Linked DNA regions of Homo sapiens. The protein of the gene in region 1 purifies or fractionates together with the protein of each later gene. This does not show direct contact. Each region holds a gene or a part of one and is shown in the gene's direction. Other genes may lie near its edges.

What was found.
Region 2: the proteins of TANGO2 (region 1) and SH3GL2 purify together in Homo sapiens (affinity purification with mass spectrometry; 3 studies listed by BioGRID and IntAct, with this or other methods). This does not show direct contact.

What each region holds. Positions count from the first base shown.
Region 1 is NC_000022.11:20,053,556-20,066,109, forward strand, and holds part of TANGO2 (transport and Golgi organization protein 2 homolog), read left to right. Parts: intron 1-2,387; coding exon 2,388-2,458; intron 2,459-7,618; coding exon of another isoform or gene 7,619-7,680; exon of another isoform or gene 7,681-7,934; intron 7,935-7,940; coding exon of another isoform or gene 7,941-7,974; coding exon 7,975-8,128; coding exon of another isoform or gene 8,129-8,132; exon of another isoform or gene 8,133-8,151; intron 8,152-8,939; coding exon of another isoform or gene 8,940-9,019; intron 9,020-9,782; coding exon 9,783-9,887; coding exon of another isoform or gene 9,888-10,043; intron 10,044-10,986; coding exon 10,987-11,107; 3' UTR 11,108-12,554. UniProt on the Homo sapiens protein: May be involved in lipid homeostasis.
Region 2 is NC_000009.12:17,755,082-17,767,635, forward strand, and holds part of SH3GL2 (endophilin-A1), read left to right. Parts: intron 1-6,355; coding exon 6,356-6,428; intron 6,429-12,554. UniProt on the Homo sapiens protein: Implicated in synaptic vesicle endocytosis. May recruit other proteins to membranes with high curvature. Required for BDNF-dependent dendrite outgrowth.

The sequences.
Region 1 (12,554 bases):
GTCTGCCAGAGGGGGATGGCGGCTCTGCCCAGCACTGCCTCGGGGGCAGGCCTCAGGCTCATCAGGAAGTGGGGTTCCACTGGGGGCTGTGGCAGCCTCTCCAGGGACGTTGCTCCTCGTGACTTGGCAAACATTCTGAGGACTGAGCCTGTCACAGATGTACCAACTCGGGTATTTGGGGGTGAAGCCCAAGGCTTCCTGTGATGGCATGAGGGCTGCCGGATCCCTGGAGAAAGCTGAGGCTGTGAAGAACAGTCACATAGAGTGGCTCTGGCCGGGTGTCCTCCCTCCCACGGGCAGGCTGTGCAGAGCAGCCCTCCGCAGCCCTGGCTTGGAGTGACTGGGATGCTGTGCTCCCAGGGAAGCTCCTGTTGGAGATGAGGCCGCAGGAACTGCGGAGGTTTTGGTGTTTTGCCCTTCCGTGAAGTGAGCATTCCTCCCTCCTGCCCTCCTCCCCCTCCAAAGCCCCAGAACTTGGCCAATGCTGTTAGTCCGGGGCCTTCTGCCAGGACAGGCAAACGGGAAGTGGTCGGCACATTGTGGCGGGCCCTGAAGCTGCCTCCTTCCACAAGGGCAGGTCCATGGGCCTCTCTCCTGGCTCCCGAGCTCCAGGCCTGCTGTTCGTTGAGCATCCCTTGTGTGTGGCATGCCCAGCCCTGCCCCACATGGGTCTGCACACTTGCTATGGAGGCTGGGAGAGTTGCAGTGTCCCCTAGGTGGAAGGCCGAGGGCTGGTGCGGGGCACTTGCTGTCCGGAGCCGTTCTTCCTGCCCATGCCTTCGTGACTCCAGGTGGCAGAGCCCCTGTGCTCTCTGCATGCCCCCATGCTCAGGAACCACTTTTCCCGGTCAGTAGTTCCATGTGGGTCTGATTAGTCTCAGGAGAGTTCCTCTGCGGCCGTGGCACCAGCAGGACTTGGCACTCAGCAGCTGTGTGGAGGTGGGGTGCCAAGGGTGCCATGCCTTGAGCAGATACACGGGCTCCTGTGGTTGGGGGTTGGGGGTTTGGGCTCCTCAGAGCCTGTGCAACTCTCCCGGCTCCAAAGGCTGCAGAGTGAGGGTCAGCCTCCTGGACCTAGCCTGAGGATACAGGCAGTGGCCAGGAGAGCATACCACAGGTCAGGCAAAAGCTGGTGCCAGGGCCGAGGCTGGAGGGCGGGGGCATCGGAGGTCAGTGAGCAGCCCTGCTGGTAGGTGCAGATGAGGAAGCCAAGGCCTGGAAGGGAGAGAGGCTTGTCATGGCCACAGCTATCCCTGGGTGAGGCCTGCCCTCCGCCTGGCCTGTGGTATAGTGCTGGCAGCATGGGTGTCCAGTTCTGTAGGTCCTTACACAGAAAGCCCAGAGGAGATTTTTGCCTGCAAACAGTCTCTGAAATTATGAACCAAGTATCTTAGGAAAGTTGCCAAAGACCATGGTGAGGAAGAACGGGAGTGGAATGTGAACATAGACGGGGGGGCCCTTGAAGCCTACCAGGGGTGGGGAAGGTGGGTCCCACCTGGGGGCAGCACTTCGGGGAGGAAGGCACCATGCCTGGCTCTTTCTCTGCATCTGTTCCATCTTGAAGGCCCAGGGCTCCATGCCCAGCATCTGGCCTGGGAGGGCATCTCACAGGCCACAAAGAGATCCTCTTCACTTTGCAAAAAAGGCACTCCAAGTTCTAGAAGACTTACTGTGGTATTGAGGATTGGAATATTTTCAGCTGGGGAGCATTTTGAACTATTTTCTTTTTAAAAAATGATTTATTTATTTTGTAGAGATGGGGTCTTGCTATGTTGCCCAGTCTGGTTTCAAACTCCTGGCCTCAAGCAGTCCTCCCTCCTTAGTCTCCAGATTAGCTGGGACTATAGGCATGAGTCACTATGCCCAGCTCTACTGTCCCTTAACTATTTTAAAGTGTACACTTAACACTTGAGAGTAGGAAAATGTGGTCTTTGGCGCTTTCTTTGGAAGCCTCGATCACCCTGGGGCCACACTGGGGCCACCTGTCCAGAAACCCTCATAGATGAGCTGTGGTAAGGGGCCTGATGGAGAGGTTGGTGATGTGGGGATGGGGCTCAGCCCTGCAGTTGTCCCCATGGGCAGCCTCTGTGTGTCCATGCCATGGGGCATTCGGCATGGCAGGAGGGCATTTTAGATCCTGTGCCTCCTGGGCTGGTGGGCCCCGAGGTGAGCTGGGAACATACCCGTGATGCTGGACAAGAGCTGGGGCCTCCATGACCCCGCCTGCCAGGCACCTGAGGGGCTGGGTCCTGCAAGCTCCTGACCTGGCCGCAGCGGGCTACTGCGCACATCGCTAGCCTCCAGAAACAGGGCTGTGAGATCACCGGGCAGTGTCGGGGAGGACGCCCTATGGCTGTAGTCTGACATTCTCTCCCCTTGGCCTGCAGCACAGCAAAGGGAGACGTCATTTGCTACTATGGGAACCGAGGGGAGCCTGATCCTATCGTTTTGACGCCAGGTGAGCCTGCCCTGGCAGCCTGATGGGGTGGGGGACTGTTTCTATGCAGAGGTCACCCTTGTGCTTTTTAGAGACCAGGCACTTGTCATATTACTCTTCTGAGATGACTTTGTGGCCATTTAAGTGCCTTATGGTCTGTGGGCACCTTGCCCTGCACCTGGACACTTCAGAGAGCCCTGGCTCCCTGCTCACCCCCTCCCCATGGGCTTTTCCTGCTGAGCAAGGTGCGCCCCTGTTCTGGGCTTCCCACCGCAGCCCTGCAGCCCAGCCGGCCACCCCCAGCCTCACTTCCTGTGCCGTCCCAGTGTGCCCTGTGCCTGTTCCTTCTCAGAACCTCTGGAGCCATCACCACCTGGGGTTCTTGCCTGGTCTGCTCCCTGACGCACAAGTACACACCCCACTCAAGCCCCACACAGATGCACGCCTCCTGCACCCAGTCCCCAGTCTGATCCCCGGTCCCCATCCTCAGGGCCTCGAGCCCCTCTGCGCCAGGTCACACTCCACGGCTGGGCCCTTCCTGCCCTGGCTCTGCACCACTGCCCAGGCTGTGCCTCCTGCTACATGCCCTTCCTTTCCCCCTCCTCGGGTGCTGCGATTTCCTGGAAGCTTCCTCTGCCAGTGCCCCAACCTGGAGAGAATGTGTCACATTGCCCCCCTCTGCAGCCATGTTCTGGGAGGGAGGTCTGCATCTTGTCCCAGGTCTGGTGCCAGGACAAAGCAGCACTCCTGGGAAATGGCATTTCCCCTGGGTGCACAAAACTGTAGGGACCATAGCCTAGGTTCCGGGGACTGCTGGCTCACTCACTCCCACACTCGCTGCCCACAGACACTCCTCGCTGGTGGCATCGTGGAACTCTGTGCCTTAAACGCCCGCTCTGGTCCCTCTACTCAAGCTGCTGGCTCACACAGGGTGTTCCGGCGCCTGGGGAGTGTGTCAGTGCCCTTAGCGCCACCCACACCCCTCTGTGAGGGGGCTCCCTCACACCCCTGGCTCCTCTGAAGCTCCATGCCCACGTCACACAGACTTTCTTTTGCATTTGGCACAAATCACCAAGTGAGGTTGCAGGTCACAGGTGCACACCTTCCCACTGGGTGTACACGGTGGAACTGAAGCCCCAGGCGTCCCTGGAGGGGCCCGAGGGAGATGATAAGCAGTCCCCAGGACAGCTGAGTGGCCCCATCCCACCTGCATCTTAGGGGGCTGGTGGTGCTGACGGGCTCATCATGAGTCCTGTGGTCCTTGCCTGGCCCACACTGGAGCTGGCTTCCAGCTTCCCACGTCTGCCCAGTGATGTTTCATCCACAGATAGGCCCAGCCCCCATTTGCTAGGGTGGTGCCCAGACCCGAACCCCTGGGCTAGTTGGGATCTCCAGAGGAGGCATCTGCCTGGAGGGTGGCTTCCAGTGTGTCCCACCCACTGCCCCCACGCCTACCAGCTGGTGCCCTCTCCTCCACCTGGGGCTTATCCTTCCGGCCACCCTCTGTGACCCTGGTCTTCCCCTCCCTACCTTGGATACAACTGTGGGCAGCCCACCTGAGCTCCCAAGAGCTGGGCAGTGGCACAGACACAGAGACTACCAGCGAGGCAGGGATGTGGCCCCAGAAGGTCCTGAGCTTGCAAAGGATTGTTCTGGCTGTCTCAGCCAGCTCTTGCTGTTCCACCTGCCCCAGAACCTCCGCATCAGTTGAGGGTCGTGGGGTTGGAATGTGTGGCGAAGTAGGTCTGTGGCAGTGGAGTTGGGCCATGCTGAGCCTGTGACTGCCCAGGAGAGAATTGGAAACTAAAAGGTGCAAAAGCAGTCAGAGACTCCCTACCACCCCCTCACTGTGAACATTGGCCCAGCGGCCTCTGGGGCAGTCGCTGTAACCATCCACGTGGCATCCTCGGTTCTCAGAGGCTGAGACCTCCGTGGCTGGAGATGCTTATTTTCTGCTCAGTTGTTGTTCTGTAGAACTTATTTCTGTCTACATCCTGCCTCATCCCTGAGCCTGCCCCACCTGGTCCACATTGCCTTTTTTTTTTTGATAAAGTTTTATTGAGATATGACTGACTAGCGGCACAGTTCACCCATTTAAAGTGTATCATTCAGTAGGTTTCGTTTCATTCACAGAGTTGAGCAACTGTCATCACTACCTAATTCCAGGACATTTCTTGATCCCCAAAGAAAGCCATACCTGTCAGCAGCCACTCCCCATTCCCCGTCTCTTCAGCGCCTGCAACCTTTAATCTGCTTTCTGTCTCTGGATTTGCCTATTCTGGACACTTTGTATAAAGGGAATCCTATAATATGTAGTTTAGGGGACTGACTTTTTTCACTTAGTGTTGTCGTCTAAAAACTCACCAGTGGCGAGGCACGGTGGCTGACGCCTGTAATCCTAGCACTTTAGGAGGCCAAGGCGGGCAGATCACGAGGTCAGGAGATCGAGACCATCCTGGCTAACACGGTGAGACCCCATCTCTACTAAAAATACAAAAAATTAGCCGGGCGTGTTGGCAGGTGCCTATAGTCCCAGCTACTTGGGAGGCTGAGGCGGGAGAATGGCGTGAACACAGGAGGCGGAGCTTGCAGTGAGCTGAGATCGCGCCACTGTACTCCAGCCTGGGCGACAGAGTGAGATTGCATCTCAAAAAAAAAAAAAACAAAGAAAAACTCACCAGCATGGCTAAATGATAGAAAGGAGAGTTTTATTTGCCATATCAGTTTGCAGACCCGGAAGAGAGAGTCTCTAGCATGGACTGAGGTGCTCTCTTTGAAGAGGGGAAGGGCAGTTTGAGTTTTATGCCTCCCAAGGTCCATATCACACAATAGAGTCATACATATTCAGCAGGTTTGGGGAAAAGCCATACATATTTATGAGGGGACCCGAGAACATATGCAATAGATAAACATACATGTAACATACATCCCATGTTCACTTTGGGGCAGGGTTTTAGCATTAAAATGAGGTAGAATCTGGATCTTTCCATCAGAAGGTGAGCTCTAGGACACAGTTGGAGTGCAGCCTCTATGAACTGCTGAAACTGGCTTATGGTCTGTAGTTGCTTATCAGAAAAGAGTGTTTGAAGGCTGGTTCTCTGTCCAGTCAGGGTTGTGGTGGTCTGGGCTGTCAAGAGTTAGGAGGGTCTGATAACGTGTGTGATCTCTACTGTTGTGAGGGAGTTTATCAAGACTGTGGTTTTTCTTGTAGCTGTAGGAATTTAGGGAGTTGCTGAGACAGCTGCCCTGAACCCTCGAGCCAGTTGGTACTTTTTGTTTCTTCCCTTTATCCATTAATGGACACTTGAGTTTTTTCCACCTTTTGGCTGTTGGAAACAGTGCTGCTCACAGTGTGACCTCACAGCATTTGTGTGGTCATATGTTTTTATGGCTCTCATGTGAATACGTAGGAATGGAGTTGTTAAGTCGTATGGTAACCCTGTTTAACCTTTTGAGGAACATCCAAACTGTTTGCCAAAGCAGCCGCAGCATTATACATTCCCACCAGCAGTGTATGCGGGTTGCAGCTTCTCTGAATCCTCACCAAAACTTGCTATGTTCTGTGTTTTTGATGATAGCCACGATAGTGGGTGTGAAGTTGTGTGGACTCGTGGTTTGGTTTGCGTTTCTCTGATGGCTATGATGTTGAGCAGCTATTCTCATGCTCGTTGGCCATTTGTATGTCTTCTTTGGAGAAATGGTTATTCAGACTGGGTTGTCTTTTTGAGTTATAGGAGTGACTTATACATTCATTCTAGCTACAAGTCTCTTATTTAAAGCACAAAGCTTAAAATTTTTAAGTCCTATGTCTCTCTCTTTTTTTTTCTTTTGTTGCTCATGCTTTTGGTTTCTTATCTAAGAAACCATTGCCTAATCTAAGGTCATGAAGCTTTCCCCAATACTTTCTTCTTAGAGTTTTATAGCTTTTGCTCTTTCACTTAGGTCTTTGGTTTGACTTAAGTTAACTATTTTTTTTTTTTTGAGACAGGGTCTGGCTCTGTCACCCAGGCTGGAGTGCAGTGGTGCAGTCATGGCCCACTGCACTGTCAACCTCCTGGGCTTAAGAGATCCTCCCAGCCGGGCGCGGTGGCTCACGCCTGTAATCCCAGCACTTTGGGAGGCCAAGGCGGGTGGATCACAAGGTCAGGAGATCGAGACCATCCTGGCTAAACCGGTGAAACCCCGTCTCTACTAAAAATACAAAAAATTATCCAGGCGTGGTGGCGGGTGCCTGTAGTCCCAGCTACGTGGGAGGCTGAGACAGGAGAATGGCGTGAACCCGGGAGGTGGAGCTTGCAGTGAGCCGAGATTGCGCCACCGCACTCCAGCCTGGGCGACAGAGTAAGACTCCGTCTCAAAAAAAAAAAAAAAAAAAAGAGATCCTCCCTCCCAAGTAGCTGGGACTGCAGATGTGTGCCACCATGTTCAGCTAACTTTTATGTTTTGTAGAGATAAGGCCTCACTATTTTGCTATTTTGCCGAGGCTGGTCTTGAACTCCTGGGCTCCAGTGATCCTCCTGCCCCAGCCTCCCGATGTGCTGGGATTATAGGAGTGAGCCACCTCTCTTGACCTGAGTTAACTTTTGTGTATGGTGTCAGGTAGAGTCCAACTCCCTTCTTTGCCCATGACTATGCAGTTCAATGGTCTTCCATGTTGTTCATGATGGAAAAAGCACTGTGACACCTGGGGCTGGCGGCTTGGCTCTGGGGGCCCCAGCAGAGCCAGGCTGTCTCCCTGGGAAATGCCTCGGCCAAGATATTCTCCTGGAAGTCTGACAGGGAGAGGGTGGTGTCTTGGTCTCCCTGGTGCATCATTTGGGGTGCTTGGCTCCCATCAAGCCCACCCCTGCTGCCCTGGCCTCTAGAGAAGAGCCTCTGAGGTGAGGTGCTTCTCCACCTCAAGTCCCTGCCCTTCACTTTCTGTGACATGAGAAACCCTTTTCCTGTTGGCCATGCCTTCTGCCAACACTCTGGGAGCTTGTTCAGAGTCTGTGCAGAGCCCCCCGGCTCTCCTAACCTGGGGCCTGGCTGGTACGCAGAGGTGGGCCATGCTCTGCTGAGGCCCAGCCTACACCTGTGCCCACTGTGTGGCGCTGTTGGGGGTTCCCCAAACAGGGACATGATTGTGGTGGGTGCCTCCTGGCCTCTGGTGGCTAATTCTCCCACTCTTGAACTTCTCAGGTGGCCCCCCAACCTGGCGTGAGGTGAAGAGGTTCCCTCTTGGCTGTCCCCTTTGCCTGTGAGATCTCAGGTTGCTCATTTCTTATTCATCCATCCATCGAGGCTGCTGGGCATCTGTGCCTTGTGGTCTCCTGTGGGTGCCCGCTTCCGCCTACTGCTGAGTTCTCCTCTCCTTGCCATGCCATCAGGTCAGGAATGAGCATGGGGAAGGAGCTGGAGCATGGAGCGGCTTGGCCTCAGTCTGGCCTGATTTCATGGTCCCCAGCTGTACCCCGTGTTAGGTGGGTGGCAGGTGGCAATTTGCCCTGACATGGCACAGCAGGGCCTCTGCATGGCCCGCTGATTGCTCCTCACAGGCACCTACGGGCTGAGCAACGCGCTGCTGGAGACTCCCTGGAGGAAGCTGTGCTTTGGGAAGCAGCTCTTCCTGGAGGCTGTGGAACGGAGCCAGGCGCTGCCCAAGGATGTGCTCATCGCCAGCCTCCTGGATGTGCTCAACAATGAAGAGGCGTGAGTGGGCGGGTCCTGCTGGGGTGAGCCCCAGTGTCCCGCCACCAGGGCAGAGGGAAAGGCAGGCCCTGCTGCCCCGGGAGGCCCATGGAAGTGGCCAGGCTGGGTCCCCAGCTGCAGGGAAGCTGATGGATATCCTGTCCTCCCTGCCTGTCCCCTTGAGCCAGCTGAGGTTTCCAACACCAGGGACTTTTGATGACAGAAGATGGGCCCAGGCCCAGGCCCAGGCCCAGGGGAGGCTCAGTGCACCCAGAGGCTTGATGCAGCCACGTGGGGCCCAGAGCAGATGGATGCTCCCCTCTGCATGCCGAGAGCTTGTGGGAAGTTCCAGAAGATTCTAGACACTCAGCAAACCCAGGCGGAAGAGACACATCATGGAAATGAGTGGCTAGGGTCAGCACGCTCAGGGTTGATGGGCTTCCCGCAAGCGGTCTGTCCCCAGCGACCCTGGGCTGAGTGCTGGGCAGGGACTTGCAGTTCCGGGAACTGCCTGGGTGTAGGAGCTCCCACCCACTTCCTTGCCCGTAGGCCTCAAGGCCCCTCAGGGGCCAGGCACTGGGGTCTTCGTTGCCCCAGCCGGGGGTCCTGGTGCTTGCCATGCCAGCCTTTCTCCCACTGGGCGAGATGCCCCACCCATCCCTCGCTCCCCACCCAGGTCAGACCACTGCCCTGCCCAGGTGATCCAGCGTCCACTCCCACCCTGTCCAGCTTGCCCCCTTCAGAGAAGCACCCATGGACCATCTCCCACTCCTCCCCCTGGGGCCCCTTTCTGCCCCCTGCCTACCCTCCTTCTCCTCTGGGCCTCTGATAGGCGGCCTCGTCCTTCAGCCTCAGCATCGCTGCCTCACTGGAAGAGCCCCACCTGGGCATGCCCAGCAGCCCCTCCCAGCTGTAAGTCCACACAGCCCCCATCAATGTGCCATCTGGGGCAGGCCGAGGACCGGCCCTGGCTGCCCTCACTGATGGCTGGAGCCCCGATGCTAGCTACAATGGCTGGCTTGAGTGGACTTCTGTCACAGAGGCAAATGCCCACAGGGCACCTCTTGGGGCAGGCAGGGAGCTTGTATGTGCCATCTGGGGCCAAAGCTCCACGATTGAGTCATAAGTTAAGGGTAGATGGAGATTTTCCGCCTTGAGCAGAAACGTGGAGGAAACACGCCTGGTGTGTGACTCACGCCTGTAATCCCAGCACTTTGGGAAGCCGAGGTGGGCGGATCACCTGAGGTCAGGAGGTCAAAACCAACTTGGTCAACATGGTGAAACTCTGTCTCTACTAAAAACACAAAATTAGATGGCTGGGTGGTGCACGCCTGTAATCCCAGCTGACGGCTGGAGCCCCGATGCTAGCTACAATGGCTGGCTTGAGTGGACTTCTGTCAGGAGAATTGCTTGAACTCGGGAGGTGGAAGTTGCAGTGAGCCAAGATCGTACCATTGCGCTCTAGTCTGGGCGACAAGAGTGAAACTCCTCCTCAAAAAAAGAAAATAAGAGAAAAGAGAAGAGAAGAGGAAAAAGAAAAGAAGAAAAGAAACAACCCTTGCAGTTCCCCGGCCACTCCCCAGAGCCAGTTAGGCCACCAGGTGGGCTGGGGCTAGACCCGGCTGCGGGCGGGCCACAGAGGGACTAATGGCCACCACTTCTCTCCATCCTGCAGGCAGCTGCCAGACCCGGCCATCGAGGACCAGGGTGGGGAGTACGTGCAGCCCATGCTGAGCAAGTACGCGGCTGTGTGCGTGCGCTGCCCTGGCTACGGCACCAGGTATTGCAGCACCGTGGGTGCGCCACCTCCTATCCCATGTCCCACCTCCCACGCTAGAGGGCCGGCAAAGAAGCCAAGTGCCCATAGCCAGAGCCAGGCTTCTTCCTCGCCTGAGTGGATTCCAGAGCTTCTGCCCTGTCCAGACGCAGCTGCAGGGTGAGCAGATACCACAGGCTCCCGGGGCCCCACAGGCTGGGCTTAAGGAGCCAGTACACAGCCACACAGGGCCAGGATGGCTTCAGGGCTGCCTGCACATTGGTGGATCCCTGCGGGCAAACGCCCCGGCACCATGGCACTAGGCCTGCAGGCTGTACCCTTGGGTGGTGGCTGCTGGCCAGCCTTTCCTGCCTGGGGCTGGCTGGCCCATTGGCAGGTGCAGGGTGTCATTTCCTTCAGCCCCTCCTCTGTCATAGGCTCATCTTCCTGTGTGTGAGGGGAAGGCAAGTGCCAACTCCACTCCCTGGCAGGCCGCATAGCCGCTGGGTCCCACCCCACGGGGTGCACTGCGTATGTGTCTGCCCTGGGAACCAGCCTGTGCTGGGGCTGTTGGGGGATCCAGGGCCACCCTCCGTCTGCAAAGCCCACGGCAGAGAGGGTTGGAGGAGAGGAGAGTGTGCTGAATGTTTGCTTCAGGTGGGCTGGCATGGCCTGGGCAGTGGAAGAGAGGGCACAGGAGGGAAGCCTTCCAGACAGAGGAGGCCTGGGCCCCAAGTGGTCAACAGCTTGACCTCTTGGAAGAACCAAGCATGGCTGTGTCTGGGAACCTGGGCCTCCAAAGGGGAAGTGTGTGGTCAGCCCGCAGGCTGCCCTATGCCTTGGCTCATGCTACACGGGGAGAGCAGGGCAGGGTGGGGTGGTTCCCAGTGAAGGTGGCAGGACTCAGCAAGTGTGGGCCTGTGGAGCCAGCCAAGAGCTCACACGCCACTGATGGCCCCTCATCATCCCCAAGACTGAGGCTGCTGCTCTCTGTGACTTGGCACAGCCTCCAGGCATGGGGTTCCTAACTCTACCTGCCTGCATTCTTGCCCTATTTGTGGCTGTGACAGGCAGGGCAGGGCTGAGGGACACCAGGTGAACGAGGGCCCCTGCTCTCTTTCAGAACCAACACTATCATCCTGGTAGATGCGGACGGCCACGTGACCTTCACTGAGCGTAGCATGATGGACAAGGACCTCTCCCACTGGGAGACCAGAACCTATGAGTTCACACTGCAGAGCTAACCCCACCTCTGGGCCTGGCCAGTGGGCTCCTGGGGGGCCCTGCCTTGAGGGGCACTGTGGACAGGAAACCTTCCTTTGCCATACTGCATTGCACTGCCCGTGGCTTGGCCAGCATCCCCCGGATCAGGGCCCTGTGGTTTGCGTGTTACCCATCTGTGTCCCCATGCCCAGTTCAGGGTCTGCCTTTATGCCAGTGAGGAGCAGCAGAGTCTGATACTAGGTCTAGGACCGGCCGAGGTATACCATGAACATGTGGATACACCTGAGCCCACTCTTGCACATGTACACAGGCACTCACATGGCACACACATACACTCCTGCGTGTGCACAAGCACACACATGCAAGCCATATACATGGACACCGACACAGGCACATGTACGTGCACAGGTGTGCTACACATGTGCACACATGCACAGTTGCACAGACACACACACACAGGTGCACACACACGATGCCGAACAAGGCAGAAGGGCGACTCTCACCTCTCATGTGCTTCTGGCCAGTAGGTCTTTGTTCTGGTCCAACGACAGGAGTAGGCTTGTATTTAAAAGCGGCCCCTCCTCTCCTGTGGCCACAGAACACAGGCGTGCTTGGACTCTTGACAAGCAGACCTGCTCCTGCAGAGGAGACAGCCACATTTGGAATTGGGCACCGAGAAGACCTGAGAAAAACCCACTCTCTCTTTTTTTTTTTTTTGAGACGGAGTCTTGCTCTGTCACCCAGGCTGGAGTGCAGTGGCACGATCTCGGCTCACTGCAACCTCCGCCTCCCAAGTTCAAGCAATTCTCCTGCCCCAGCCTCCTGATTAGCTGGGATTACAGGCGTGTGCCACCATGCCCAGCTAATTTTTGTGTTTTTAGTAGAGACGGGGTTTCACCATGTTGGTCAGGCTGGTCTTGAACTCCTGACGTGGTGATCCACCTGCCTCGGCCTCCCAAAGTGCTGGGATTACAGGCGTGAGCCACCACGCCTGGCCGAAAAACCCACTCTCATAACAGAAGTGCAGACTCATTGCTAGATTCAGTGCCCTTGAGTGTGCCAGAGGTCCTCTGTGTTTGAGACAATCCTGTGTGTGCCAGGAGGCTCCGTGTGCACCAGGGGCTCTCAGAATCCCGCTTACCCAGCTGGAGACCATGCCTCTGGCAGCCCCATCTCAGCCAGCCCTGCTCTCTCCCTCTTCCCTCCAGGTGAGGCAAACTTCATAGGAATCTGTACCTGAATGTGAGCTCCTGATAATAAAACTCTGAGGCTTTGGTGAGCGCATTTCGAGGCCTTTCCCTTGTATGCAGGGTGCCAGTGGGAGCTGCTATGTCTCCTGTGCAGCCAGACACCCTGGACGAGGCCCTTCCCACCTCCCCCTTTCCTCACGGCTTCTTCAGCACCACATGTGGATGCCTGTGGGTCAGTCCATCTGTCCATGGGCAGGGGCCGCTGTGAGAGACCCCA
Region 2 (12,554 bases), on another chromosome or scaffold:
TTCCAGCTTTTGCCCATTCAGTATGATGTTGGATATGGGTTTGTCATATATGGCACTTATTGTTTTGAGGTGCATTCCCTTAATACCTAGCTCATTGGGACTTTATAACATGAATGAATGTTGAATTTTATTGAAAACCTTTTGTACATCTATTGAGATAATCATGTGTTTTTCTTCTTTAGTTCTGTTTATGTGATGAATCATATTTATTGATTTGCATATGTTGAACCAACCTTGCATCCCAGGGATAAAGCCTACTTGATAATGGTGGATAAGCTTTTTGACATGCCTCTGGATTTGGTTTGCCAGCATTGTATTGAGGATTTGCATCAGTGTTCATCAAGGACCTTGGCCTGAAGTTTTCTTTTTTGTTGTATCTTTGTGGCTAATTTTAAAATCTTTTGTATAGATGGGGTCTCACTTTTTCCCAGGCTAGTCTTGAACTCCTGGCCTTAAGCAATCCTCCTATCTTGGCCTCCCAAAGCACTGGGGTAACAGACATGGGCCACCATGACTGACTGAATTTATTTATATATTAATGATCACTAAACTCACAAAGTGTTGGTGCTCCCTTTAAGGTGTCTATGTTTTTCTTAAACTTTTGCTCTGCTACAGCATCTGGTATAATGTGGTATCTAATAGTATGAAATCATATCTTTCAGTCCTTTTGTTGCTCCACAAACAACGCCACGCTGTTCACGAGTCCTTACACCTAAGTTCAGGAAATACCAACTTTTCTTCAGGGAAGAAAGGTAATATTCCCATGTCTCTGGAAGAGTAACCCCATTCTAGTCATTTCCATGCCTTCTATTCTTTAGTATCTTGTCTCTAAAGACTGAGACAGCTGGTGAAATAATCAGTATCATCTATAGATTCAGCATGGCATTATTATTAGTGAAGCTAGCACCTAGCACAGGAATCAAGATTTTTTTGTAAGTGCTTTAGGTTTTTGGGGCCAGAGGGTCTCTGTGGTCTCTTACAACTCCTTGCCAATGCTGTCAAAACACAAAAGCGTCCATTGACAGCGTTTAAATGAATAAGTATGGCTGTTTTCCAACAAAACTTTATCTAAGGATGCTGAAATGTGAATTTGAAATTTGAATAATTATTTTGTGCAGTAAAATAGTAGTCTCATTTCAAATTTTTTCAACCATTTAAAGAAGTAGAAATGGAAGTTTTTATTACCTAAAAAACATGCCTGTATCTGTATATATTTACAGTTTCACTTTCTTTTTTTTATTTTTATTTTTTATTATACTTTAAGTTCTAGAGTATGTGTACATGTGCACAGCTTGCAGGTTTGTTACATATGTATACATGTGCCATGTTGGTGTGCTGCACCCATTAACTCGTCATTTACATTAGGTATATCTCCTAATGCTATCCCTCCCCCCTCCCCCCACCCCACGGCAGGCCCCCATGTGTGATGTTCCCCTTCCTGTGTCCAAGTGTTCTCATTGTTCATTTCCCACCTATGAGTGAGAACTTGCGGTGTTTGGTTTTTTGTCCTTGCAATAGTTTGCTGAGAATGATGGTTTCCAGCTTCATCCACGTCCCTACAAAGGACATGAACTCATCATTTTTTATGGCTGCATAGTATTCCATGGTGTATATGTGCCACAGTTTCTTAATCCAGTCTATCATTGATGGACATTTGGGTTGGTTCCAAGTCTTTGCTGTTGTGAATAGTGCCGCAATAAACATACGTGTGCATGTGTCTTTATAGCAGCATGATTTATAATCCTTTGGGTATATACCCAGTAATGGGATGGCTGGGTCAAATGGTATTTCTAGTTCTAGATCCCTGAGGAATTGCCACACTGTCTTCCACAATGGTTGAACCAGTTTACATTCCCACCAACAGTGTAAAAGTGTTCCTATTTCTCCACATCCTCTCCAGCACCTGTTGTTTCCTGACTTTTTAATGATTACCATTCTAACTGGTGTGAGATGGTATCTCATTGTGGTTTTCATTTGCATTTCTCTGATGGCCAGTGATGATGAGCATTTTTCCATATGTCTGTTGGCTGCATAAATGTCTTCTTTTGAGAAGTGTCTGTTCCTATCCTTTGCCCCCTTTTTGAAGACTTAAATGTTAGACCTAAGACCATAAAAACCCTAGAAGAAAACCTAGACAATACCATTCAGGACATAGGCATGGGCAAGGCATTAGACTTCATGTCTAAAACACCAAAAGCAATGGCAACAAAAGCCAAAATTGACAAATGGGATCTAATTAAACTAAAGAGCTTCTGCACAGCAAAAGAAACTACCATCAGAGTGAACAGGCAACCTACAGAATGGGAGAAAATTTTTGCAATCTATTCATCTGACAAAGAGCTAATATCCAGAATCTACAAAGAACTCAAACAAATTTACAAGAAAAAAACAACCCCATCAAAAAGTGGGCGAAGGATATGAACAGTTTCACTTTCTTTAAACAGCCTTCCCTAATGGCTCCTCACACCAATCCCAGGCAAGGTTAGTTGAAGACGGAGGCTCAGGAGCTTATAAGATGAGAAATTCTTGTAATTTAGGATGCATCAAAACTTACTTTCAAATAGTAATTGGAAATTTTGGACATTGAGAAAAATAACAGTTACATGTCATAAGTTCAAAGTTAAACTGTACTGTTCTCAAATGGCAATAAGCTCAATTCTGGGAGCTTATGGGAATTGCTAGTTATAATAAGTTACTTAAGTGGAAATCTTCTTTATGCTAAGTTAATCAGGCCTGTTACTAAGAGAATATGTACTTGGATATTACCAGCTTAGGTATATAAATAACTCTTCTGCCAAGTGCATAACAAGGCACATTCAGGGGTCTCATGGGGTTATGGCCCTCAGCTTGTCTCTGGCTGACACAGTGTAGTTTAGCAAAAGAGTCCTGGGCATTATTATGGAGGACCGAGGTGGAGAGAAGTTAGAAATTAGTCAGCCTCCTACTGGCAGATGACTTCAGAATGTGACTAATCATTGGACCATTCAGTTCTTCTGGTACTTTTTTAAAGAAAGCCTCTGATTAATGGCCTTGGGAACTACTTTTCTCCTCATAACACACTTAAAGAGCTCCTTTCCCTTCTCTAGGCCACAGGTGTGGACATTTAATAAATTAAAGCGTTAAACAGAATGCTCCCCTGGTCTCTTCCTCTTATGTCCATGAAGTCTATCAAGTAATTATCTGTAAGAATGCAGCCATGCCTGGTGCAGTGACTCATGCCTGTAATCCCAGCACTTTGGAAGGCCAAGGCGGATGGATCACTTGAGGCCAGGAGTTCGAGACCAGCCTGACCAACATGGCAAAACCCCGTCTCTACCAAAAAATACAAAAATTAGCCAGGCATGGTGGTGCGTGCCTCTAGTCCCAGCTTCTTGGGAAGCTGGGGAGGGAGAATCGCTTGAACCTGGGAGGAGGAGGTTGCGGTGAGCTGAGATTGCTCTACTGCACTCCAGCCTGGGGGAGAGAGTAAGACCCTGTCTCAAAAAAAAAAAAAAAAAAAAAAAAAAAAAAAAAATTGCAGTCAGTAGCAAGGGCCTAGGAATGGATTTGCCAAAAGTGGGTCCCTCTTTAGTATAATTCCTGATAATGAAATAAAAATGTAACTGTATTGAATAAAGTTGTTTTCAGAGGTGGTGGATTTCAAGCGAAGGTTATTTTATGTTGTAGTCAAAAGGGTTTAGGTAGAACTTGCTCTGTAATGATGCCTGGACTAGGTAACCAAAAGTGTTGAAGGAGTCTGCCTCAATGGGCACAAAGTCGGTAAACATCTGGGTGGGATGAGCTCTTTCTTTAGACAAGTCACAAGGGACACTGGAATAGTTTTTATTCCTACTTCTCTTTTAAGATGGAGTCCTGCCCTGGGGACCAAATGTAATAATCTAATATTGGTATCCCCAGGGTCTCTGGGTCTTCCCTGAGACCACTGGCTTCAGCCAAGCTAGTGGTGTCTGTTTACACTACATGAGTGGTTGGGCTCCCTACACAGAGCTTAAAAGGGAAGGGGGTTCTGTAGCCAAAATGAGAAACTAGCTTTCACAGCCTTCCTTGCTCACCTCCCTGTGGGCCAGGTGGGATAGACACTGCAGGTACCAGTCTCTGTAGGGAAACCCGTGAAACTGAGGGCCTGTGGTTCAGCAGATCAGCATTGCAGAGCCTCCCTTCCAGAGAGGCCCAGGATGGAATAGTCTTGTGGATGAAGCTTCCACAGACTTTGAGAAGTTTCAAAATAAAAACAGAATATGGGATGGCAGGTACCTTCCTGCTGATGCTGTTTCACCGGCTACTGCCAGGTCCCCAGCCCCATCTTAGGGAGGGAACAAAGCATATTCCAGCTCTGACTTGGCCTCTCTTTCAGATTGGGAGATGCCTCTGTTGCCTGTCTTTTTAGGAAGAGCTTTTGCTTTCAAGAAGTATAGGATGGTCATTAAGAACACACACACTGGAACTAGAACTGGGGAAGTTTCTTAACCCCTCTGTATCTGTTTTCTCATATACATTACAGAGTTTGTGAGCATTGAGTGTGTAAAGATATTTATAGTCCTTAGAACAGTTTCTGACAAACAGAAGACAGCTTATGGTGATGATTGTTATAATTATTAAGGACAGAGATGGGGGAACCTTAGAAATTGGTCAGCCCCTTAACAGCAGATGACATCAGGATATCAAACAGCCATTGGAAAATTTAATTCCTATGGCACTCTTTTTTAGAAACCTTGGCTTTTTGAATGATTTTCCTTCTCATCATAACTACAGGATATTTAGACACATTTGTCATCTAATTCCTTAATTCCCATCACATAGGCAGCAGGAGATCTACATTTGTACTTCTATCACACATGTACCATGGAGTTTCAGCATATTTGTTCCATACACACCTTTGATCCATTTCCCTGGCATAAGACATTCTATGACTTGAGTACATAGTGGTTGTTTGGAATTTTGCTAATACTAGGACCTTCACATATGGCTTCACAAGTTGTGTACTGCACAACTCCAGGGGGCTACTGAGCATTTTTAAGCTAATCACTACCTGGTACACACTCAATCTTAAAGATCTTTGAAATTTGAATCAATCAAAAGGATATTTATACAAGATTTATATGTAGACAGGCACATTTGAAATTGCATCCTTCTAAAGATAATTTTATATCATTATAACTTCACAAGAAAAAATTTGTTTTCCTCTGTTGATCCTAGTAATAGCAAACACACACAGTAATATGACTGCCATGGAATGAAAAATTATTAAGTATTGAAAAACTGAACTGAAAGATAAAATCTTTTAATGTGTGGATTATGGAAAAGGAGGAGGCTTACTTTATGCAAGGCTGATATTATATACCGGTATATATTATATACCGGTATATATTGGTATATACTGATATTATACTGGTATATACTGATATTATATACTGGTATATATTATATACCACTAGGTACAGCAGGTTATGGAAAAGTTTCTCATAGTTGAAGGGGGAGCCTTTTAACAAACAGAAAATTTCTCCAGTGGACTTAATTGATACCTAAATTTCTACATTAAAATTTAATCACTTTCATTTATACCTATGTCATATATTACATGTACATACCTTGAATAGGAGGATGCATTTATTCTCATTAGTCATTTACCATGTAGGGCGAATAGGAGGCCCACAGATGCTGATAAGAAAAGGATTTCTTGGAGAAAGACAGAGAGCACTGCAGTGAGCACCTTCCATGACCTCTTTCAAGTGGGGAGAGGGGCCTGACAAAGAGAACACGGTGAGATGCTGAAGGCAAACACTGACCATTCCAAATTTAGAAATTTAGAGGATAGAACAAATTTGGAGGATAGACTCTAGCATCAAGATTTTTGTTTAGCATTAACCAAAAGTTCAAGGACAGACTAGAAGTCTTTGCTCAAGATTTTATATTTTTAGGATGTTCTTAGAAGTTAAATAAAAAGCTCCCCACTTCTTGAATAAGCAGAGTTGATGCTGCATGATTCTTTCTTGAGGGCAGCAAAATCTGCCTCCATGCCTGACCCACTGTAGGCATCCAATAAATGCCTCTGGGACAAAATATGTTTCATTTTATTCACCTTATTTTCACCAGAAGGTAATGAATTATATTTTGAAACAAATTTTAGGAAACTACAAGCTTCTTCTTTGGATAAACGGGCTTTCCACATCTTGGCAGACCACTGCTGAGTACAGTGTCAGCATGACTTCCAGCCGCGTCTCAGCCTCCCTCACCTACTGCGGGACTTGTCCGGGGCTCTGTTGCATACCCCGCCATTGTATACAGACTCAACCAAAAACCGGTATTCTAAAGCTCATCATTTTTGTCATTTAGAGCACTTATTTTCTCATTTCAGAAAGTGGATGTCACCAGCAGGGCTGTGATGGAAATAATGACTAAAACAATTGAATACCTTCAACCCAATCCAGGTAAGGCATCATCTTATATGTTTAAAGGATCCCTCGAGGTAACTTTTAGTTTCTCTTTGATAGACATTTTAAGTTTGGTGTGTTTCTTCTTTTGGTGTTGCTTCCTCGGTCCACTTTTCTGAGAGGTTAGCGACTTCATGGATAGCACATTTTAACTGGGGAGAAGGGCTTTTTAAAGCTCACATTGAAGTAACTGGAAGATCTGTGGTATTTTATCTGACTGTGGTATATTTAACAAATAATGTATGCAAACAGTTCAGGTGACACATAATATCAGAGTAGCTATAAACTGTTATCAGTTTGAACTTTCAAGAGATGGTAAGAAGGAAAATTAGGATAGTTTAAGGTAAGATATAATGATTCCCAGAAGATGTGAAAAAGTAGGGAGGTGAATCGTTTTCATGAAACACAGAGGGTTTCTTCATAGGGCATCACCAAAGTCTTCAGAGCGTTGATCTTGATTCTGATTCTTCTCCAAGCACATCACAGATCAGCATTGGTTCCTGCTAACTTGTTATACTCTAAGAAAAAGAAGTGGTAATAGAGATAACGGAGCTATATGTTGATAAGAGGACCAGGCAGAGTTGGGGCAGTTTCGGTAGGCACTAGGTATAGCAAAGCAAAGCAAAGCAAAGCAGCCTACCTGATAGACCTCCTCATTACCATTCCTGTGTGTCAGTTTCTAACCACAGGGCACGGAAACGGGAAGTGAGGCTGGTTGTATTTAAGTGAGATGTGTGAATATTTGGAATACCCCTTAATCTTGAGGCTAGTTTCTTTGCAAGTTTCAGGTTGGGGTTCCGTGTATTTTATGGTCCTAGAGAGGATGGTGCAGACAACTGCTTCAGCCCCAATGAGTTTGGATACTGAGCAATAGTGGACAAGTGATCAAAAAAAAAAAAAAAAGGGGGCGGGTGTGGGCTGAGAGGAAGCAGGTGTGTGCTGTACTAAGTGCTGGCTCCTTTTCTATGCCCCCTGCTGCTGGCTGCAGCTTCCTTCCATCCTTATTCACCTATGACCAGCCCAGCTGCTATTCTGAGGATGAGCAGACTATGTAGGAATAACTTTCTGGATATTTGTTGCTGTTGTTTTTGTTCATAAAACACATTAGAAATGAGCTTATGTGAGGGAGGAAAATATGGAAGAAAATGTGATAAGCTATAGGAACCAGGAATTTAACTGACAGTGGTCTAGATACATTTTCAAATGCTTAGCAAATTTGTCAAAGCACTGCAAAAATCAGGTTTCTTATTTTTACCCAGAACCTTCTTGGTAACCACTGTTTTTCACAGAGATGCAAAGATCTCTTGGATGCACATTTATTCCTTACTGTTTAAACCACTGTCATAGGTCAAGTTCTGAAAGAGAACTGCTCGCCCTGCTTCCCCGCAAGAAATCATTATATAGGGGCAAGAAGTTTTGGTCTTTATCTTTGCCTAGAACCTTGAAGTACTCCATGATTTCCTGGGATTTTCACGAGTTGTACTTGTAACTCATGGTTGTAGGGCTAAGAGAAAGGCAGTGGGAGGAGGAATATAGTATTTATTGAGCACTGATGCATTTTCAGTGCAGTGCTAGGTATATGAGGCATTGTCTCATCTTTAAAAGTAACCATTTTTCTCCATATAAAGTAAAAACAGTTGAAGAATTTCTAGTATGAAAATAGACTAAAAATTCATTGTAACACAAATTATCAGTGGGAGCTCATCAGTTTTCCTGAGTATAATGGAACTGTGCTCTGTTGTAGGTAGGTGTGGTGGGTTGCATTGTGTGTCTCCCCAAATTCAGGTCCATCCAGAACTAAACTTATAAGGAATGTGACCTTATGTGGAAATAATCCTTGCAGATGTAAGTAGTGATGTAGGATCTTGAGATGAACTCTTCCTAGATTTAGGGTGGCCCCTAGAACCAGTGATGGGTGTCCTTATGAGAAGAGGAGAGGACACAGAGAAACACAGGAAAGAAGGCCACGTGAAGAATGAGAAGAGGTTGAAGTTACACGTCACGAGCAAAGGAATGCCAGGAGCCACCACCACAAGCTGGAAGACATGAGGAAGGATTCTCTCAGAGCCTCCAGAGGGAACCAACTTTGCCGACACCTTGATTTCAGACTTCCGGTATGCTGAACTGTGAGGGAATCAATTCTTTTCTTTGAGGCTGCCCAGTTTGTGGTCATTTGAAATGACAGCTCTAGAAAACTAATCCAGTACGCTAGCCTCATTTTATTCAGGAAAAAACAAGGGTCAGAGAATTTAAGGAACTTTCCCATTCATACACCTAGGAAGGGATGAAGACAAGATTGGAACTCAGGTCTGACTACCTCCTAAGTCTCTGCACTTCACGTTGCACGATCCTGCCTCTGAGAAGGGTAGGCTCCATTTCATTTAGGTGTGAAGGGTCCTTCCCTTTCAGAGAGTACCAGAGAAATTCAGAAAGGAAATTGTGGGATTAAGGCTTATTTTTATTTTAATAAAAAACATCAAAGGAGGAGGTAATTGAGAAGATCTGAATGTTTAGAAATGACATTTTTAATACAATATTGCATGTGCTAATTGGCTGCCAATATAATGGTTTTGTGACTATTTGAGAGTTGAATGGACATCTGCCACTAAGAACAATGAAGGCCATTACAGGCAATTCGAGGTTGGTTTCAGAAAAACAGTTATGTATGGGCAGGCCACATACATATATGAGTAAGTACTACCCAGAAGAGTCCAGAACAAAACGAAAATTTTGTGTAATCATTCCACAGAATTTAAACAACCTGCATTTAATTGTTTACAACAGGTACAATTTCATCCCTCCACCAGCTTCTTGCCCTGAGAGTAGACACTGGCCATAGAGCCCAGACCAGGTAACTGGTAAAGTTGAGAGTTAGGCAGACACCCAGAGAGACAGTCCTTGGGCACAGGAGAGCACAAAGAATGTTCCCAAACTCGTGCAGTTTGCTAAATACTTTGCCCACTCAGCCTTTCAGTGAACCCTAGAGCTGGGCCAACCAGTGTGGATACTGAATGCTGGTTCTGAATAAGCAAGATATGGCCTGGGTTAGGACAGGGCCTGATGCCAAGTAACACATTTACATGGACAGGCCAGGGGAATCAGTAGGATTTGATGCTTCGAGGGTACTTTGGGAGTACATCTGTATTAGATTACTGCTCCCGGGTGCTTGCTGGCTTTCACATCTTGGGTACATGGACAGGCCAGGGGAATCAGTAGGATTTGATGCTTCGAGGGTACTTTGGGAGTACATCTGTATTAGATTACTGCTCCCGGGTGCTTGCTGGCTTTCACATCTTGGGTACATGGACAGGCCAGGGCAATCAGTAAGATTTGATGCTTCAAGGGTACTTTGGGAGTACATCTGTATTAGATTACTGCTCCCGGGTGCTTGCTGGCTTTCACGTCTTGGGTACATGGACAGGCCAGGGGAATCAGTAGGATTTGATGCTTCGAGGGTACTTTGGGAGTACATCTGTATTAGATTACTGCTCCCGGGTGCTTGCTGGCTTTCACATCTTGGGTACATGGACAGGCCAGGGCAATCAGTAGGATTTGATGCTTCGAGGGTACTTTGGGAGTACATCTGTATTAGATTACTGCTCCCGGGTGCTTGCTGGCTTTCACATCTTGGGTACATGGACAGGCCAGGGCAATCAGTAGGATTTGATGCTTCGAGGGTACTTTGGGAGTACATCTGTATTAGATTACTGCTCCCGGGTGCTTGCTGGCTTTCACATCTTGGGTTCATGGACAGGCCAGGGGAATCAGTAGGATTTGATGCTTCGAGGGTACTTTGGGAGTACATCTGTATTAGATTACTGCTCCTGGGTGCTTGCTGGCTTTCACGTCTTGGGGGTGTGGAGCTTACACATGTTTTCTATTCTTAAAACTCAGTTCCTATTGAAGTGATGACCAAAGTGATTTTGTTTAGCTTTTAAGAATACATGGCTATGCTCTGTGAAGGTCCTACATCCACTCTTGCCCATCTCCAGAATGATATTTTAAAAAGCAAATTTGGTCATATTATGTAAAACCCTTCCATGGCTTTTCATGCCTTTAGGATTAACTTTCATTTTTAACATGGCTTAAGGGGCCCTCCCTGCATGGTCAGCCTGCCCTTTCCCCAACACCTTGCTAGGCTAACAGCTCCCTCGGGTCCAGCGTAAAGGTCACTTATTAGCCTTCCTTGGCTCCAACCACATTAGGTTCCCCTGTCACTGTCCCTCTTGTAATCCCAGCTGCTTTTCAGTGGGGCACATGCCATACTTGTGGTTTTGTTTTTCATCCGCCATGAGTTCAGCACTGTGCCTGTCTTATTCACCACCACATCCCCAGCCCCCAGCTCAGTTCCAGGCAGCCAACAGGCACTGGGATATTGGAATAAATGAATTATGAAGCACAGTTGACTGTCAGTGTCTAATGTACTAAAACTTCTCTAATACAAAAAGTAGGAGGAAAAATTCTTCCTTTTCCCTAAATCATCAGATACTCATATGTAACCAACATTTGTCACATGCATTTACTTTTATGCAAAGAGCAATTCTAGATGCTGTGGGGCAGAAATGAGACCAAGACTGGAGGCTTGTCCTCTGGAACCTCACAGTCTTAGTGTAAGTTACACACAGTCTGAGGAGAGGAGCCCAGAAGGCTTCACAGCTAATTCCTCCTGGAAAATCCAGCTAACTGATGAGATGTGGAAGTGTGAGCGGGATCACAGGCTTAAACGTCTGCCCTGTGAGGGTGGGCTTTCGAGAACGCAGGACAGACAGCTGTAAAGTCATCCAAGCTTGAACTGCAATAGCATGAACCAGTACACATTCCTAAAATGCTTAAATAAGATATAATTTGAATATAGAAAGTACTGTGCACAAATTCCATTCTACTGGTTGTAAGTGCCTATTCTTACGATATTTGTGAGCAAAAATCACTGAAGAAGATATAACTCAGTTTTCTTTACATATTCTGATGCCTTACGGGGGAGCAAAAACTGAATCGATGTTGTCCAATAGAAATAGGATGCAAGCCACATATGTAATTTTGAATTTTCTAGAAACCACATTATACAAGTAAAGAGAAAGATGAAATTGTCTTTAATAATATATTTTATTTAACCCATTATAGCCAAAATATTAACCACTATTAAAAATTATTGAGATATTCTATGTTTTTTTTCATACTCTGGATTTCGGTCTGTATTTTATACTTACAGCACATTTCAATTTGGACTAGCCACATTTCAGGTGCTCAGCAGCCCGCTGTGGCCAGTGGTGCCCGTAATAGACGGTACAGCACTAGATAGTTTGCCTTTCTGTTCGATATATGTTTCATGTTTACCTCCTTGGTTTTATGTTTTATCAGTGGGTTTTTCTTTTCAATAGAGAAATGGATTCTTGATTTAGAATTAGGATATATTTAGGCTCTGGATTTTTTAAAAAAAATTCTGAAAGTCTGTTTCATGACACTTGAATGGAATTGTAGACAGTTGGACTGTGGACCTTTTCCAGACTTAGCATCCTTGTTATGAGAGAGGCCTTTTCAGTTTGCACTGAGAAGTTACTCTTACCCTGATGTGATAATCTAATACAAATTTCCAAACTGCTTACATAAAAAGCAGCTTGAATGTGAAAAATGTTGTACACAGTAGGGGTTTGTTTCTCTATGGAAATGCTTTTCCCTTGAATGCCTATATGGTCTAGATTTTTCCAGCATTTCTGAGATTTGGGTATCAAATTGGGGTCATTCGATGTCTATTTAGAATTTTTTAATAATTTCAAATCTCATTTGTGAAATATTGCCTGTGGAAATAAAAGCTAGCTGTATTAGTTTCAAAATGTACCATTAGTCCCTGGAAAGATACTCTATTAAAATTAGTGTACTTCTTTTCCCACAGGCTGTGCTCTTAATCATGTCCTTCCAAAGATGAATAAATACAGTGATTATATTTGGTGACTGTGGAACTGAAAATGAATACATGTATTACTTGGCATTCATGTAGACAAATCCTTGGTCTCACAACACACTGAATTTACTGTTTTTTCCTGGAGGACAGGATAGCTTGTATTCATCTTTGCATCTTTTAGAGTCCTTAGCATTATGCCTGGTACATTGTTTGCTCTCAGTATG